Regions from separate parts of the Homo sapiens genome. Here region 1 is linked to region 2. Evidence: fine-mapped expression QTL. A gene starts in region 2. The other region holds a variant in brackets. All regions are shown on one strand. Distances are from middle to middle. Region 1 overlaps LOC124902986 (a long non-coding RNA gene). Region 2 holds the start of NDUFA12 (NADH:ubiquinone oxidoreductase subunit A12).

Region 1 (2,915 bases), 900 kb after region 2:
TCTGCCACAATCTGGGTTCAGCAGGCACCACATGGCTGCCCGGCTCAGCCATGTTTTTCAGTCACGTGTGTAGGTTTGCACCAATGCAATGGGAGAGGAAGGGCTGTGTGAATCTCTAATTCCTGCCCTATTTTTTTCCTTTTTTCACAGCCACATTGCTAAAGAACAATCCCCACTTCCTTGCCTTCTGTACATTCCCAGGCTGCAGTCTGGCTCCCTCCTTCCTCATCCTACTGAAAGGAGCCCTGCTGAGCCCACCATTGATCTGCTGGTGACTAGGTGTCAGGCATGTGCACAGACTTTTTCCATTTGAACTGCTCCAAGGCTGGCTGACGGCCACCCCCTCGGACTTCTGTCCACCCAACACCCAGTCAACCATTCTGGTGGCTCTTTCTCAGTCTCTTAGGTCCCCCAGCGCCCACAATTGGTACTTTTTTTCTGAGGCAGAGTCTCACTATGTCACTCAGGCTGGAGTGCAGTGGCACGATCTTGGCTCACCGCAACCTTCACTTCCTGGGTTCAAGTGATTCTCCTGCCTCAGCCTCCCAAGTAGCTGGGATTACAGGCACGTGCCACCATGCCCAGCTAATTTTTGTATATTTAGTAGAGACAGGGTTTCACCATGTTTGCCAGGCTTGTCTCTAACTCCTGACCTCACATGATTGCCTGCCTGGGCCTCCCAAAGTGCTGGGATTACAGGCGTGAGCCACCGCACCTGGCCAAAACTGGTACATTTGAAGTTCTGTTCCTGACCATCTTCCTATTCTGCCAGCATCATCCCATTACTTCATGGACTCATGTACACTTAACGTTGTATTTTTAGCACCAATGTACCTCCTACATTTTAGTCTTTCTAACTGTCTATGTGACATTCCACTTGGATACCCCACAGATGTCTGGACTCTCATGACCCAATCTGAGTCAATCCTCCCCGAACTCACCTCCCCACGGTGATTCCAGCTCATCCTCTGCCCTCCTTCCTTTCCACCACCCCTGTCTGATTACTCAGTTCCGTAGTTTCCATCTGCCTCAAAGAGTGCCACACCCGCTCCCTGTTCTCATTGCCAGTGCCTTGCTTGATTTTATCAGCCACTCCTGCCTGGACTACTACAGTGACCTACTTACAAGTCTTCTTATTTCTTGCTTGGTGGTTATCACAAAGATCACTTTGGAAGCTTCTTGAAAGTGCAGATTCTCAGGCTCTACCCCCAGAGAGTCTGATTTGGTAAGACCAAGGTACAATCCAGGCATGTGGGTTTTTAATAAGCTCACCGCTGGAATCATCCAGTGCAGATG[G/T]TCCCCAGACCACTCTGTAAAAACCACATGACTTGTCCTCTTCTTATTCCAGTCCATTAACTACATGATTAATTACTAAAGCTATTACTACCTAACATTTTTGGAACACTTATTATATCCCAAGGCTGTGTTGAACTTTCTATATGCCTATGGGCCACTAACATAACAACTCTATGTTTTAACTATAATTATGATTCCATTTTACCTTTGGGAAAACTGAGGCACAGAGAGCTAAGTTAACTAGCCCAAGGGCACATTCTCTCTGATCCAAAGCCAAGTTCTCGTGAGTACATCTTACCGTCTCCTTTGCTCCCCATGGTCCAGCTATGCCGAATGTCTTTAGTTCTCTGAATGACTTTAGTTCTCTGCTTCTTTATGGCTCTGAGCATTTGTCATGTGGTTCCCCTCTTTGAAATGACCATCTGTATCAGTTTCCTATGACTTCATAACACATTGCAAACATAACAGCTTAAAACACCCATTTATTAGTTCATAGTTCTGGAGGTCAGAAGCCTGAATGCAGCATGACTGGGTCCTCTCTTCAGGGTCCTACAGAGATAAAATCAAGGTGTCAGCTGGGACTAAGTCTCATACAGCTTGGGGATCCCTTCCAAACTCCCTGCTTATTGGCAGAGTTCAGTGCTCTTGCAGTGGTAGGATTGAAGGCTGGTTTCTCTGCTGGCTGTCAGGCAGGGGTCGTTCTGAGCTCCTAGAGTCAGCCTGCATTCCTTGCCACGTGGCCCCTTTCATCTGTAAAGCCAGCAAAGAAAATCTTGCCAATGATGAGTTCTTGCCGCTTGTCAAATCTCTTCTGCCAGGACAATCCAGTCCCTTTCAAAGGTTCACCTGGCTAGGTTAGGCCTACCCAGGATCATCTCCAGATCTTAAGATCAATTAATTTGGGAACTTTAATTACATCTGCAAATTCTCTTCACAGAAGCACCTAAATTGTTTGATTGAATAACTGGGCAAAGGTGTGTGTACACTGCGAGGGGGATGGGCTGAGAATCTTCAGGGGTCATCTTAGAATTCTGCCTAATCTTCAAAACTCAGCTCAAGGGTGACTTTCTTGATGTCTCTAGGCCGAGCTAGGTCCACCCCCTCTACCCCACAGCATCAAATACACACTCTTCTACTGGTCCATTTCCCCCCAGCTGGGCTGTGAGATTCTTGAGATCAGAAACCAAGCGTTGGTCATCTTTGTGTGCCCAGCTCCCGGAATAGCACCCGACTCTATATTTGCTGCCTGAGAGCTCAGGATGTGCTCAAGCAAGCCCTCCAGACGAGAAGGGCATTTTCATTAGAATTGCATGCATCGCAGGTACAGGGCTGTTGACGGGACAGCAAGTGCTTCCGGAAGGTCCCAGGAAACTTCATCGGCACCCTACGCTCCAAAGTCTTTTAGCCGAGAACCATGGGCAGGCCAGCACGCCTTCTGAAAAGCCCAGTGAAACCAGCATCGCCGTGACGGTGAGGCGGATGGGCCACTAGGTGTCACTCAAGATTCAATAAAGAGAATCGCGGATGCTTCGAAAGCCGTTTCCGCCCTTCTAGGGAAGGGAGCTGGTTAGACGATCCCCACCCATTGTTTTTTGGTTCACGCTCCAAGCCTTCCGCGC
Region 2 (2,915 bases):
CCGAGATCGCACCGCTGCACGCCAGCCTGGGCAACAGAGTTAGACTCCGTCTCAGAACAAACAAACAAACATACAAACAAACACAGAAAATATGTAGTGTTGGTGAGGAGGTGGAGAAATTGGAACCTTTGTGCATTGTTGTTAGTAATGTAAAATGGTGATGCTGCCATGGAAAACAGTATGGGGATTCCTATAAAAATAAAAAATAAAATTTCCATATGATCTAGCAATCCACTTCTGGGTATATATCCAAAAGAACTGAAAACAGGATCTTAGAGATATCTGCACACCCGTGTTCACTGCAGCATTATTCACAATAGCCAAGAGGCGGAATCAGCAGAAATGTTTATGGACAGGTAACTGGGTGGCATATACATACAGTGGAATATTATTCAACATTTATAAAAAGAAGAAAATCCTGTCATATACTACACTATGGATGAGCCTTGTGGATATCATGCTAAGTGAAATAAGCCAGGTCCTAAAAGACAAACACCTCATGATTCTACTTATATGAAGTATCTAAAGTAGTTAAACTCTTAGAAACAGAAGTAGAATGGTGGTTGGCAGGGGATGGAGAAAGAGGAAAAAGTTGTTCCATGGATATAAAGTTTCTGTTTTGCAAGAAGAATAAGTTCTAGAGATCTGTTGCGCAACAATGTGCATGTGGTTAACACTACTGTACACTTAAAAATGGTTAAAATGGTAAATTTTATATTTTGTGTTTTTAACCACCACTACCAAAAAAAAAAAAAAAAAGCTAGGGAACTAAATTGTTATTTTGAAAACACACATAAGGGAAAGAATCGGCTGGGTGTGGTGGCTTACACCTGTAATCCCAGCATTTTGAGAGGCTGAGGCAGGAGGATCACTTGAGGCCAGAGTTCAAAACCAACCTGGGCAACATAACAAGATGCCCATCTCTAAAAAAAAAAAAATTAGCCAGGGGTGGTGGCACTTACTTAAATGGGAGGACTGCTTGAGCACAGGAGTTTGAGGCTGCAGTGAGCTATGATCACACCACTGTATTTCAGCCTGGGTGACAGAGAGCCTGTCTCTAAAATTAAAAAACAAAAAAAAAGTAAGAGAATCAAGCACCCATACTGCCTTTCCTACATTAATTGTATCTCAGGAGCCAAATAGTTGAAGGGAGGTTTCTCTTTGTAGAAGAATTGTGGTTAACAAATGAAGTAATATTGAAATTTTTTAGGCTCAAGCGATGCTCCCATCTAAGCCTCAGCCTACCGAGTAGCTGGGACTACGGGCACGCGCCACCACATCCAGCTAATTTTTAATTTTTTTTTTTTTTTTGTAGAGACAGAATTCTCGCTGTGTTGGCGAGGCTGGTCTCGAACTCCTGGGCTCAAACGATCCTCCCTACCCGGCCTCCCAAAGTGCTGGGATTACAACAGTGAGCCACCGCGCCCACCAGAGCCAATTATTTTTAGATGAGGAAACTGAAATTCCCAAAGGGGGAATCCCCGTGTGAGAAAGCCTCGTGTAGGTGAGCTTTCCAGCATATGCCCGCCTTCTAGATTTAACCTCTGAAAACTAAATTTTAAGGTACCTTTGCTTCCAGGGGAAACCAATTCTGCCTACTTGGGAAGCCAGAACATGACCGCGTAGGCAAGACCTAGCTCTGCGCACGCGCAGAGCCACCACGTCTGGCGTTCGCGTGAGAACCTTCTGGGCGTGGGCTTCCTGCGGCTGAGTGGCAGCTTCCATCCGGTGGGTTTTGCTCGGCGCACCCGGGAGGCGGGGCCAGCGAGGCAAGATGGAGTTAGTGCAGGTCCTGAAACGCGGGCTGCAGCAGATCACCGGCCACGGCGGTCTCCGAGGCTATCTACGGGTTTTTTTCAGGTAGGCGGCCAGAGCCATGCTCTTGGCCTCTGGGGCTGGACTTTCGCTGGCTGATTTCTTGGAAGGGGTCCCAGGCTCGGGTCACCTTGGAGAATCCACAGCTCTTGTCAAGGACAACCGCCCCAATCTCTGCCTTGCCACCCCCAGGCTGGTCTCTGTCCCATATATCCCCGATACAAGACCGAAGCTATCTGTAGAGTCAGAGCTGTGACTCGGAGGCAAGGGCATCTGGGCTCCCCTCTTTTCCCACGCCCTGGAGAGTAATGAGGATTACAAGACATTAACTCAGTGACCCTGGTAAAGTTTTTTTCCCTGCACTGCCGTACAGTTCCTTGTCTGTAAGGCGTTGAAGGTAATAATGATGGTCCCTTCTCTTCCTGACATTCACTGATCCCACGAGCAGCATAGTTTCGCAGAAACCTAAATGGAGACCCAGAGTGGAATGAAAGAGCCTGGAGACCTTCGTATCATTGTAAGAAGATGAAATACTTTGGCTTTTTGATTTCCTAAAGGTTTTGCTAATTCCAGTGCCTCCTGGCTGAGGGATAGTAGATACAAGTAGTCCTGTAATCTGAAGAGACTACATTTATATTTTTAGTGTAATTTGAGCACATCAGTTGTCAATTCATCTTTTCCCATCCCCAGCACTTCTTCATTTTGCTAGTTGATGCAGCAGCCCTTGTGTCTGAAAGTTGTTACTCTCACTTTATTTCCGTTTATGTTTTGAACTAAGAATCATTCTAAAATGTCTGTTTTCTTTTGGGTATTCACAGGACAAATGATGCGAAGGTTGGTACATTAGTGGGGGAAGACAAATATGGAAACAAATACTATGAAGACAACAAGCAATTTTTTGGTGAGTGCAGTATTTTTTAGTATGAATAATTGGATTGGGATTGGGATTTGATTTGAGTCTATTTTCCATATTATGCAATGAGCTTTTACAAAACACCTGGAAAAGGATGAAAAACTCAATAGAAAATGAAAAAAGATAATTTACAGAAAAAAGAAAAGTAAACAGCCAATGAAGGTATGGAAAAATGCTCATTCTCACT

Evidence for each region. PIP is the estimated chance that this variant, and not a neighbour inherited with it, causes the effect.
Region 1: its variant is fine-mapped to the expression of NDUFA12 in cerebellar hemisphere (GTEx, PIP above 0.99).

What each region holds. Positions count from the first base shown.
Region 1 is chr12:94,102,296-94,105,210 of GRCh38, reverse strand. It overlaps LOC124902986 (a long non-coding RNA gene), which reads right to left. Exons shown (of 2, transcript XR_007063409.1): 1 at 1,595-2,915. Among named protein-coding and RNA genes, the nearest start is that of PLXNC1, 45 kb to the left of the region's middle. RefSeq lists an enhancer at 2,876-2,915. The variant G/T (reference allele first, on the strand shown) is at 1,297.
Region 2 is chr12:95,002,540-95,005,454 of GRCh38, reverse strand. NDUFA12 (NADH:ubiquinone oxidoreductase subunit A12) reads left to right here and starts at 1,758. Exons shown (of 4, transcript NM_018838.5): 1 at 1,758-1,860; 2 at 2,634-2,716. The coding sequence starts at 1,775. RefSeq lists enhancers at 1,636-2,035, 1,500-2,127.